Regions from separate parts of the Homo sapiens genome. Here all the other regions are reported to be linked to region 3. The links are microRNA targets in miRTarBase. Many come from high-throughput screens and were not tested one by one. Region 3 holds a microRNA gene; each other region holds the end of a gene's coding sequence.

Evidence for each region. Region 3 holds the annotated microRNA hsa-miR-3183 (GCCUCUCUCGGAGUCGCUCGGA, at 1,106-1,127, shown strand). A microRNA usually pairs through its seed, bases 2 to 8, with sites in the 3' UTR of a target mRNA and lowers its output. Matches are read on the target gene's strand: a 7mer-m8 pairs with bases 2 to 8, a 7mer-A1 pairs with bases 2 to 7 and ends in A, and an 8mer does both.
Region 1: the mRNA of GPR37L1 is a reported target of hsa-miR-3183. Seed matches in the 3' UTR shown: 8mer at 1,392-1,399 and 7mer-m8 at 579-585.
Region 2: miRTarBase lists GTF3C4 as a target of hsa-miR-3183. Seed matches in the 3' UTR shown: 7mer-m8 at 1,068-1,074 and 8mer at 2,195-2,202.
Region 4: miRTarBase lists ITGA1 as a target of hsa-miR-3183. Seed matches in the 3' UTR shown: 8mer at 2,367-2,374.

The regions. Positions count from the first base shown.
Region 1 is chr1:202,128,030-202,131,105 of GRCh38, reverse strand. It overlaps GPR37L1 (G protein-coupled receptor 37 like 1), which reads right to left. Exons shown (of 2, transcript NM_004767.5): 2 at 1-3,076. The coding sequence ends at 2,550. Among named protein-coding and RNA genes, the nearest start is that of GPR37L1, 6.7 kb to the right of the region's middle. RefSeq lists enhancers at 1-439, 440-1,223.
Region 2 is chr9:132,688,795-132,691,870 of GRCh38, forward strand. GTF3C4 (general transcription factor IIIC subunit 4) reads left to right here. Exons shown (of 5, transcript NM_012204.4): 5 at 87-3,076. The coding sequence ends at 151. Among named protein-coding and RNA genes, the nearest start is that of GTF3C4, 20 kb to the left of the region's middle.
Region 3 is chr17:1,020,656-1,023,655 of GRCh38, reverse strand. It overlaps MIR3183 (microRNA 3183), which reads left to right and starts at 1,097; the gene lies at 1,097-1,180. The region is part of intron 16 of ABR (ABR activator of RhoGEF and GTPase); the gene reads left to right.
Region 4 is chr5:52,952,113-52,955,205 of GRCh38, forward strand. It overlaps ITGA1 (integrin subunit alpha 1), which reads left to right. Exons shown (of 29, transcript NM_181501.2): 29 at 295-3,093. The coding sequence ends at 339. The region is part of intron 2 of ITGA2-AS1 (ITGA2 antisense RNA 1); the gene reads right to left. Among named protein-coding and RNA genes, the nearest start is that of ITGA2, 36 kb to the right of the region's middle.

The sequences.
Region 1 (3,076 bases), not on the chromosome of region 3:
CTGGGACCCCTAAGCAACAAACCCTACATTGTTCCCCCAGCTGGCCCAGGCTGCGAGGACAGTGGCTCTTTCCCAAGGCCGCTGGCCTGCTGACTGATTCTGCAAGCCATTCACGTTGGCAGGCTTGGGAGGTGGCGGTGGCAGAGCCTTGGAGCCACCATCTCTCCCCCTTCATCTCTGAGCCGGCCAACCAGCAGGAGGGAGAGGTGGAGGGCACCCTTTGTGGAGGAGGACCCCTAAACAGGATGTTGAGGGGTCTGACTCCCCTGCCCTGGACTTCACCTCAGTTCACCCGGCCCCTTCCTGCATCCCTTAGGAAGCTGGTGGTACTTCCGGGCCTGGCAGGGGGGTGGAGAAGGAGTTGGGGAAATGCCGAGGAAACGGTCCCCAAGAGCTTCAGCACGACAGGCCTGCCTTTGGTCCCCTCTCCAACCTGCTCCCCCACCCATCTGAAGTTTCTACAGACAGAGCTGGGGGCTTCAGTCACCGTGGCAACAGGTCTGCTGAGAAACGGGTGGGTGTCACTCCCCAGCACAAAGGGTGTGTGCATGGCGGCGCCATCACCTAGCAACGGCCTCCCTCTCTCTTGGCGGCATCACCCGCCCTGGGGGTGGGTGCCAGGGAGAGAGAACAAGGCCGTTAAGATCCCCAGGAGAGGGGGAGGGAAGCTTGGGTACAGGGCAGGCTGAGGCCAAGGGGTGTGGGTGGGTGGACAGAGGAGAATGGAGCCCCAGGCGCTTGGAAACCCTGCCCCTGCCCATCCCTGGGCCCCCGGGGCCCTTCCTGAGGCCCCATGTGGATGCTGTAGGTAGGCCTGGTGGGCAGAAGTCTGGTGGGACCCAGGACAGAGCTTCAGACAGGGGGGGTGGTTCTGAGGAAAGCTGAGCTCCCAGGCGGGGAGCGACTGGTGGCCTGGCTGAGGCATCACTTCTGGTTGATGCTGTGCCAGCTTCCCAGGGACCTACAAGGCTAAGGGTGCCCTCTGGAAGGGACCAGAGGTGGGGCTGGGGGAAGTGGCACTTCAAGGGCAAGACCCCACAGGAGAAGCTGCATGAAGGGTCTGCCGGGGGCAGTGGGAGCTCTGGCGGGAAGGGTGGTGCAGTGGGGGCTGGGTGGGGGCAGGCCAGGGCAGGCAGCTGGGCCGTCTACAGGCAAAACAGTCCATTCTAAGAAACTGAACAAGAGCAGCTCTCAGAGTGACAAAGGCTGGGAAGCCCTGGGGCTCACAGAGGAAAGACCACTGGACTCCCTCCAAGGGGGGCTTTGTGGAGAGAGGGCATAGCAGAGATGAAGGCTCCAGAGGAGATATTTTCCAGGCTTTTGACTTCCCAAGGAGCATGGGGTTTAGGCCAGGATGAGGACTTAGGTCCTCCGGCTCCCCAAGCCCTCCATCCTCTCTGTCCCTCAAAAGCCATAAAACCCTTGGAGTCGCCAGGGCCACAAGGCTGTTCTGAACATCGGCCACAAGGCTGTTCTGAACATCAGCCACAGGCCAGGCCAGGTCAGGAGAAATTCTCCTAGGCACTGCCAGGCCAGGAAGGCCCAGCTGCATCTGGGCCCTGCCAGAATGTGGCACAAGAAAGTGGATGGGCATAGGGGTAGTTCTACCTAGTTTATTGTTTCTCAAGAAGGGCCTCCTATGGGAAAGCACCTAACAAGGAGGTTGGGACAGGGCAACCCAGGGATCCCAAAGAAAGGAGGAGGAAGGAGAGAGAAATCCTCTGGAAGAAAAGAAGGCACCAGTAGGAGGAGGCATCCAGGACTGGGACAGATCTGGTCCAGAGAAGAGTGTACTGGGGCTGGGCGTGGCAGCTCACACCTGTAATCCCAGCACTTTGGGAGGCCAAGGCAGGCAGATCACTTGAGGTCAGGAGTTCAACACCAGCCTGGCCAACATGGTGAAACCCCGCCTCTTCTACAAATACAAAAATTAGCCGGGTGTGTTGGTGCACACCTGTAATCCCAGCTACTCAGGAGGCTGAGGCAGGAGAATCGCTTGAACCCAGGAGGCGGAGGTTGCAGGGAGCTGACATCAGGCAAATGTACTCCAGCCTGGGCAACAGAGCAAGACTCCATCTCAAAAAAAAAAAAAAAAAAAAAGAAGAGTGTGGTGAGCCACACTGGGCTGGCCCCAAGGAGCCCCCATTCCAAGATGGGGCCCCAGGTTGGTGGTAGGAGGATGATGCCTGGGAAGGGCACAACTAAAGTATGGTCAGGTTCCAAGGCAGAGAGAGAGAAGAGAGACTGGAACCAAGGGAGGGCAGGCAAAGTTCTGGCTCCCAGCTGCTGGGACTCAGAGTTTCTGGGCAGTTCTAAGGACCTAGAAGCATCACCGCCCACCAGTGGAAAGGACAGGGTTGGAAGGCCCCACAAGGGACAGGAAAGGCCCTGTGTGGGGAGGGGGCTTTGACATTCCCAAACCTTGACAAGAGGAACCAAGTCCATCCCTAGACAGCAAGACAGGCAACAAAGCAAGACCTATGGGGAAAGAACAGCAGACACCGGCGGGGGTGGCGGCCTCTCCCTCCCTCCCCACCCCTACTGGGGCCTCAGCAAGGTGTGCCCAGGGGCAGGAGTGGGGGTGACTCCCTGGGCTTGTGGAAGTAGATGGAAGAGGACACCTCGGTCTTGAGCTTGTTGTCCGACCCATTGGCAGCAGAGGCCTCCGAAGCCCCGCCGCACTCCTCACAGCAGCAGCAGCAGCAGCAGTCCAGGAAGGCCTGGCCCAGCGGCCTGCAGATGCAAAGGAGCAGCACTGGGGTGATGGCGCCCTTGAAGAAGGTGGAGAACTGGTTGATGAGGCCCAGGAGGTCCAGGGTCTGGCGGGTCAGCTCGGTGGAGAGGTAGGCCACCACGATGTTGCAGACGTTCTCTGGGAGGGTGCAGAAGGCGTAGACCACGGTCAGGCCCACCACGGTGCTGTTGAGCTGGCTCTCACACTGCTCGTGCTTGCTGGCCCTGCACTCTGACTTCCTCCCTGGAGGGCCTCGCACCCGCCATGTCACCAGCTGGCAGGTGACTGTGAAGAGGATGGGCAGGCAGAAGTAGCAGCCAAAGTACCACCACATGCGGGCGT
Region 2 (3,076 bases), not on the chromosome of region 3:
TCTCTCAACGCTACAGTCCGGTATTCATCCCTTTTGACTGTCTTTTCCGAAGCTAACAGTTGATACCACTTGTCCTCCTTTTGCAGATCCCGACTGGATTAAGAGGTTACTGCAAAGCCCCTGCCCTTTCTGTGATTCTCCTGTCTTCTAAATAATCAGTGACGGGAAGATGGAAGGGCATGATGAACTCTGCCATAGAAAACTTCCTCCAGCCTGAAGAGAAGGATGCACTGGAGGAAGCCGGACCCTCACGAGTGGAGAGAAGTCCTTGGTGATTGTAAAGAGGGCCCCTGGAGCTCATTTCTGAATCGCACTCTCCATTTCCAGAGACTAAAGGATGTCCTTTGAAATGGCTGGACTCAGAGAGTTGGAGTCGTTTTGAGATGAGCATTAGCCCCAGCTTTGTAACCAATGAGGAACACTTACTTATTTTTAAGTATCTTGACAGAAGCAATTTGAACACAGTGTCCCGTCATTTCTAGAAACAGAATGGTCTCTTCTAGAGAGCTTGGATAAGGACCTTGCTGGGTTGAGTTAGGTTTTAATCCTTGCTTTGGTTTGGAACTGCCTTCGGGCTCCAGAACTTAAATTGCTTGGTCCGTGGCATCTGATGTACCAACAGAGATTAAAAGTGTAAAGCAACACATGGGCTGATGTTTTGTTCTCAGAAAATAGCTGCTGGTCTGCATCCCTCCATTCTTGTTTTTTATGCATATGGAAAACATTTTCCTAAAACTCTATATTCTTAAGTTGAAGCCAAGACTAAAATTTAATGTGTCAAATGATCTGGTGACTATTATAATGAATAATTGTGACTTATTTTTCATTCTCTCCTGGGTCATCAGGTTTCCTGACCCAACTCCTTAATCCGTATAAAGATGTCAAATACTGTAGTTCACCCACGCCACAGCCCTGCTTCAGACTTAACTGTGGTAGCCTAGATGAGCTATTTGTACACAGAGGAAAAAAAGATATTTTCCTCTTTTAGTAATAAGACTTTCAGTATTTTTAATGTTGACATTTCCAGATGTTTCATTTAGTATCCAGGGGTCTGTCTGGAGACTTCTAGAGAGGGACAGCTCAGAAGTGAGACCCTTGAGCTCTGGTGCTGTAAGCTTGTGCAATTAAGTTGAACAGAGCCTGGGAATTTCTTTCCTCTGCACAGTCCCTTGATATTTGGAATCCAGGTTCTGCCCCCAACCCCTACCCACCCAGTGGTCTGTTAAGATGTCTCAGATGGGGCTGGGCTTGGTGGCTCATGCCTGTACTCTCAACACTTTGGGAAGCAAAGGCAGGCAGATCACAAGGTCAGGAGTTCAGCCTAACCAACATGGTGAAACCGTGTCTCTACTAAAAATACAAAAATTAGCCAGGCGTGGTGGTGCACACCTGTAATCCCAGCACTTTGGGAGGCCGAGGCAGACGGGTCACTTGAGGCCAGGAGTTCGAGACCAGCCTGGGCAATATGGCGAGACTCCGTCTCTACTACAAATACAAAAGTTAGCCTGGCATGGTGGCGCATGCCTGTAATCTCAGTTACTCAGGAGGCTGAGGCAGGAGCATCACTTCAACCCAGGAGGCAGAAGCTGCAGTCAGCCGAGGTGGCACCACTGCACTTCAGCCTGGGCAAGACTGGAGACTGCCTCAAAAAAAAAAGAAAAAAAATGTTGGTACTTAGATGATACCATGACGGCAACCTCCCCACCCCCACCCCGCATTGATAGGTAGTGCAGACCAGCCCTTGGAGGCACTTCTAAACAGTCTGCTCAGAAATGTTTTCTGTTTCCTATTCAAATTGCTGTTTTGTCTCCTATGTTTAATCATGTATTTGCTATTCTGCTTATTTTTCTCATTTGGTGGTAATTTCAAGAAGAGCGTTTATCCACTATTGATTTTCAAGAAAGAAACCAAGCAGCATTGAAATCATGAGTAACAGAATTCAGAACATTGTATGGTGGAAGTCATTTGTGTCTGCAGCTGTTTTTTCACTTTACAATAAATAAGAGTAAAAATTGAGATCATGTCAAAAAATTATTGCAGTTTTAATCATTATGGCATAGTTTCACTTCCCCTCCCCCCATTAGAATCAGTGGAGATTTGTTCTTACTAGGGAATTTTGGACTGCTGCCATTTAAAACTTAGGTTTTTATTTAAAGCAGTTGTGCATTTTTGAGAAAATGTATTGGGAGTAACTAGAGAGGATCTCCCAAATTTTTTTGTATGTCTCTCTAGGAGTAAACATGGCAACAGTTTTTCTAGAACGTGGACTCACTGCAGGGACTGGACCCAATGGCATTGTTAAGACCCTAAAATCTAGCCACCACCTGCCTCCCCCAGGTTTCCACACACCCAGTTGGAAGGCCTTTCCCTGCCCTTGTCCCTGTCTCACACCCATGGAGGTTAAGCTACAGAGCTGGGGAAACAGGAGATTTTGAGTTAATGGCAGCCTCACAAATAGTGCTTCTGAATTTCTCTGAGGGTCAGCATACCTCATGGGAGTGTGTTGCTCAGTGCAACCTTGGAAAAGTGGGAATGGCACCAGACGTTTTTCAGGTGCCTCTTGCAATTCAAACTTACATCCTCTATACCGTCCTAAAATTTGCCTGATCTTATTTGGTAGATTTCAAGTTGCTTTCAGCTGTGACCGTAATAACTGTTTCAGGAACTGGAGAAATAGTGGAAGTGCTATTGCCGCGCTGCATGTAAAGCACAGGAGCAAAGATTCGATACAATTAGACCCTTTAAGCTACAACGTGGTTGCATTTGGGGAGTCTGATACCCACATAGGTATCACATTTTCTCTGCCTGGGGTTAATTTGTTCTTATTATTCTAGGTAAGAAATTGATAGCTTGTTATGCTTGGTACTCATTCTGAAATCCCTGTGTGTCCACCAGGCAGACTTCAAGCAATCTCTACCTACTATTATATCTGCCAAAACTACCAATTATTTTTCAATGTCAGAAGTTATTAGAGCCACTGGCAAAGCTCATGGTTGAATATGACATTTTTCTGCTTTTCCCTCTAAGAAGTTTTTGAGAATGTTAATGTTGAAGTATGCAGGCTGGACCTACCAGC
Region 3 (3,000 bases):
CCAGCGTGAAGCTTCCTGGTCAGGACCACAGAAGGCCTCTCATCTTGGACTTTGACCTCTGAGGGCGCCCCTTTCCTTTCAGGACAGGGCCTCCGTGTTGCTTTGGCCCTGGCCTGTTCCTTTTCTCAAGAGGGCCCCACTGCCCCTGCCCTTGCCACTCTGGCATCCTCGACCTGCCCTGGGCTGGGGCAGGGCCGGCTTCCTGGCTGGTATTTGTAGCCCAGTTCTGAGCTGAAGCTGAAGCCTCCAGGCTGCCTGCACAGGGAGGCAGTGGTGGGGTGGGCTGGCCCTGAGGAAGACGGAGCCCTAGGCCGCTGGGGGAGATGTGCCTGGCTGTGGGGCCTCCAAGAGCAGCCCAGGTTTGGATTTTGTCTGCTTCTCCTCAAGGTCAGCCATGCCCAGCCCGGGGGCTAAAAGCAAAGTGGGTGCCAGGGCAGGCAGAGGCTCTGGAGTGGACGTGGGGCCGGCAGAGGCGCTGGAGTGGACGTGGGGCCGGCAGAGGCGCTGGAGTGGACGTGGGGCCGGCAGAGGCGCTGTAGTGGACGTGGGGCCGGCAGAGGCTCTGCAGTGGACGTGGGGCCGGCAGAGGCGCTGGAGCGGACGTGGGGCAGGCAGAGGCTCTGCAGTGGACGTGGGGCCGGCAGAGGCTCTGGAGCGGACGTGGGGCAGGCAGAGGTGCTAGAATGGACGCTGGGGAAGGCAGGTTGCTGCGGGTGCTAAGAGGCTAGCCTGCCTTGGACAAAAGCGTCGTTCAGAGCTGCTAATCCCCTTCCTCCCATGAGGCTTGGGGAACTTCGAAGTTCTCTGGTGTTGGAGGGGAAGCCAGCCGAGGCCCTGGGACACGGCATCAGCCCGAGCCTATCTGTGGCTGGCCTGGGTATGGCAGGTGGGCACACCTTGGCTGCAGGACACCTTGGCTACAAGGGAGCCTGGCTGACCCTGCAGGGTGAGGGCTGGAGAGGCGGAGCCTGCCTGGCCTAGCAGTGTGGATGCCAAGCCATGGGAAGATGTGTGGAGAGTTTATGGAGCCTGGCCCGGTGTCCCCAACCCAGCTGCTGAGCTGGAAGCCAGGGGTAGGTCCTGGCAGCCCCTCCCTCTCTGCCCTGCCTCTCTCGGAGTCGCTCGGAGCAGTCACGTTGACGGAATCCTCCGGCGCCTCCTCGAGGGAGGAGAGGCAGGGTCTTGGCAACTCCCGTCTCCCCCGTTGCCAGCTTGCCAGCCCCGCCGTGCCTCTCACGCCTGTGGTCTGCCCCAATGACAGGCCGGCTTCGGTGTCCCAAGGGGACCCAGCCCTGAGCGTGGGGCTGCCCTTGGGGGAGGGCAGGGGAAAGCCAGCCCGGGCTGCCACCGTGGCCGCTGGCCTGGGAGCCCCAGGAAACGTGCCCACCCTCAGACCCGATGCCTGGCTCAGGGCCTGGGCTCCGCGGCCCCTCCAGGGCAGGCGTGAAATGTGCCCACACAGCTCCACCTTCCACGTGGTTCCCTGTCCGGGGGCCACTTGCACTGAGGTCCTTCTGGAGTCATTTTCTGTTTTTTTTTTTTTTTTTTTGAGACAGAGTCTTGCTCTGTTGCCCAGGCTGGAGTGCAGTGGTGCTATCTTGGCTCACTGCAACCCCTGCCTCCCGGGTTCAAGTGATTTCCGGCTAATTTTGTATTTTTAGTAGAGATGGGGTTTCGTCAGGTTGGCCAGGCTGGTCTCGAACTCCTGAGCTCGAGTGATCCGCCCGCCTCTGCCTCCCAGAGTGCTGGGATTACAGGCATGAGCCACCGCGCCCGGCTGGGAGTCATTTTCTAGCGTTCCTGTCCCACCTCTCAGGAACAGATTTACCACCTTTGTTGTGAAGAAGCATTTTTTTTTTTTTTCTGCCGCCAGGCTGGAGTGCAGTGGCACAATCTCAACTCCGGCTCACTGCAACCTCCGCCTCCCGGGTTCAAGCGATTCTCCTGCCTCAGCCTCCCCAGTAGCTGGGATTACAGGCACCCGCCACCACGCCTGGCTAATTTTTGTATTTTTAGTAGAGACGGGGTTTCGCCACGTTGGTCAGGTTGGTCTCGATCTCCTGACCTTGTGATCCGCCCGCCTCGGCCTCCCAAAGTGCTGGGATGACAGGCGTGAGCCACCGCACCTGGCTGAAGAAGCACTTTTTTTTATGAACCTCTGCAACCCCCTCTGAGGGAAACCCTCCCGCATTCTGGGATGCCGGGGCTCAGAGGGTGGAGGGTAGAAGAGCGCCAGCCGTGAGAGGCAGGATGGGGCGGCCCCCGAGGGCAGGGCTGTGCCTGGAGGCAGGGCTCCTCGGGGGGTCAGCTCCTGGGCGGTGGGAGTGACCGAGTGGGCTCCTGAGGGAAGCGGCTTTCAGGAAGGAGGCGGAGGCCTGGGAGCTCTTGGGGCCCTGGCAAATGTGGTCTTCAGATTCCCGTCGTCCAGTGAGCCCCTGGATCACGTCCTGAGTGGCGTCCACTGAAGGCTGCTTGGGACCTCTGCTCCCCCCTCCACTGAGACCCCCAGTGGCCAGTTCTAAGTCCCACCTGCCTTGGGCAGGGCCACCACAGGCCCCTTACTGTGGATTAAAGGGCCCTGGGTGAGGGCTTGTGGGAGGGGAGGTGGTGGAAACCATCTCCGAAGACCTTGGGGCGAGCTGCGTGCTGGAGTGGAGAGTGTGGCCCAGCAGGCAGGAGCACTGGGTTGGAATGGGGGCTCTGCCACCTCCGAGGGAGCAGGAGTGGAGACCGGAGGGAGCGTGCCCCTGAATCCGAGCACGGGGAGCTGGCCGGGAGCAGCCCTCCGGGCAGAGGCAGGAGAAATGGGGTCACCTGCCCCAGGGGGTGAGAGGTGAGCCGAGAGGAAGGGCTGAGACCCTCAGGGGCATCCCCAGGATGTTCCTGAAACTCAGCCCTGGAGGACGCTCAGGTGTGCGTGGAGCACCCTCTGCCCTGGAGCCTCAAATCCTCTCCCCGCTGCGGGGCCACTTTGCTGATTCCTGCCCCAAACATGAGGTC
Region 4 (3,093 bases), not on the chromosome of region 3:
CCGGGTGGCGGAGGTTGCAGTGAGCGGAGATCACGCCACTGCACTCCAGCCTGGTGACAGAGTGAGACTGTCTCAAAAAAAAAAAAGAAAAGAAAAAAAAAGAAACAGCAATTTAATAAATGTCATTTTTTGACATTGAATATTAATAGGTCAATGAGAAAATATTTCTTAATTATATTAGTTGTGTGCCCAGCATTGCCAATATACTATTAAATTTAATTCTATCCAAAGGATTAATATTTGCTACCTAAATTAAAATAGTTAATTGTGTTATGTTTTGTGTTTTCTCAACAGATTGGATTCTTCAAAAGACCACTGAAAAAGAAAATGGAGAAATGAAATATTTTATGAAAGAAAATAATAACAATTATTCAATAATCTATCCTCAGGTTTGCCTCAAATATGTGACAAGAAATGTATAATTCATGACATAGTCATGTAACTATGTAATCCATCAGGGATTCATTACTTGGAAAATGACAGGTCATGCATTATCCAAAAACAATACCAAAAAGACATATTTTATAAAATGACAAAAAATATTTTACATAATTACTCATTTTTGTTGAGTAAGCAAAATTACAAAGTGTTTTTAAAAAAACCTGTACAAATATGTTTATGTATTAAATCACCATCCAAAATATTTAAGGAATATATAAAAAGATTTTTATGATCATAGAAACATCTATTTTCAAAACAATATAAATTAAGCTTTTCCCCTTGATTCCTGTTGGATATCCATGTTCAGCATGACAGTCAGCACTCGTAAATGCCAAGAAAAGAATTACCTGAAAAAGATCATTTCTCCCTATTCAAATGAGAATATTTTCCCTTGGTAGAATCCATATACAATATGGATTGAAAATTAAGTCACCAAGAATACATTTAGCATCTTTGTGTTGGGTTCTATACCTAAAAATTTTCCCTCCCTGCCCAAGGTGATTGGAAAGTACTGCAATTGAGCTAAAATTTTATCTAGGATGGAAAATCAGGATAGACTCGTTTAAAAACAAGTATATTAAATGGGTTAAATTAAGCTTTTACAGAACATGCTTAATTTTGATATTGAGCTCTAAATGCAAAACTCTTTTATACTGAAAAAACACTTAAAGTAGTTTTGTGTGGCATCACAGTGATTTGTCATGAAAAGCCATATATGGGGGACATGCTAAAATGGCTTCTGAATGAAATACGACAGCAGAGAAAGATGCCACTGAAATGCTGAAATTATCTTTGCTGAGCAGCTTTTGAATGCTAAGGGTTCCAGTATGTGACCCAAAGAAAGAGTTGTCTCAACTCCTTGGTACAGGGTTCATTCAAACCCCCAAGCTGTGAGAGTGTGTTTATTTTTAATTTTTTAAAAGGTATTTAATTTCCAACCACACTTCTTATTTTTTTGAAAAGACAATTTTCCATTTCAGTATTACATTTTACCAAGAAGTCACTGCTTTTTAGGTGTGTTGCATCAATATTTAAATAAAATCCCAGAAATGTATTTTAAAGAATTTCAGGTTTGAAAACTCAAACCAACAGGAAGATATCACACCTTTGTATGTGCTTCTTTGTTCTTGAAGTAGTCATTATGGTTCATTGGAATCTACTGTAGCATAAGCTCCTAGGTTGCTCCATTTCTTAGGAAAATAGCAATGAATGAATGTATAGTAGCTGCATGTGTGAACTACTGCTGTAAAGTTTGCTGACATTTCTGCAACAACATTTCTCCATCTGATTTACCAGAACCTGTAACAAGACCAGAACATGTATTCATCCAGAAACTCCTGGGCTCTGCTTTGTTCAAAGAGGAGCAAATCCACATAGAAATTAAATGTTATAAATTTATTTTTTTAAACTAATTTCCAAAGAATTTAGCTGAAGACTCAGAGTCAGCCTACCTCTTGACTCTCCACATCCGCATCTAAGATCCTGAAGGCCAAAGGAATGCGCCTGTGGGATGCCAAAGCCATCAGTAGCTGGAAGAAAGAATACCTCTTTCTAGAGGTTTGGTGTCCTCTTGCTGGCCTGTCATTATTTGGAAATACGCGCTTTTGGAATTTCCTTCATTTTCGCTATTTCCAGGTTCAGAAATCATACCTACCACTTGTTCTTTCTTTGCCCAGTAAAACTCAGGGTTTCTCTTATTCAGAGTTACCATGTTGCACACCCCCAGTGCTCAGCCTGCCCAGAAGCCCTTCTCTGATCTCAGCAAGATCTTAGTAGTAAAGCTAACGGATCCATTGAAATTCATACTCAGCATCTGTGACTACTAGACAAAGCCCATTTACTGAACCATAAGTGTGCACTTTTAAACTAAATTGTTAACTGAAAGGGAAAAAATAGAAATGAGGGCATTTTGAAGTTTTTAGAAAAGAGAGGAAGAGCTGTTGGCCAGATCAAAGAGATACTTATAAGCCCGGCACAATTTTTAACATAAGTCATTCCTGGCTATTAAGTAAAATATTTCATGAACCAGAAGTCCTGTTTCTCTAATATTATAATTTGTTGAGGTTTGTGTGTGTGTGTGTGTGCATGTGCAGACACATGTACACATATAAATTGAATACAAAAATAGCTCTATAACACCAAAAAACAGAGTTTACAGAAAATAAACACAAAAGCTATATCTGCAAGACAAGTTTGATTCATCTAGTTTCATATAGTTTCATATAGTTTCATTTTTATTAATATTTAGGTTTAACTTATAGTTCTGCAATTATTTAAAAAACAAGTACAGAGCGTTTGATTAAAAAAAGTCAACAAATGTTTCAAAACAGCTTTGTACAAATGTTATAAAACATATTTAATGATTAAGAAATGTACTAGACTCTATCATTTACTTTTAAAACATTTAATTAGAAAAACAGGTGATATTTAAGACTATTTATAAACTTATTGGCCAAATTGCCAAAAAGTTTCTTTTTCTCTAACTTTGGTATTCTAAATAATTGATTATTGCTCCCATTGTAAACTGAACCATGTATGCACTCTCTTTTCTGACCAAACTACAATGGTATATTGGTAAATTATTTAACAACACACTGTCCAGGAGGGAAAAAAAAAACAGTCTCTGATTTGTATCATTTGCCAATTTCCATG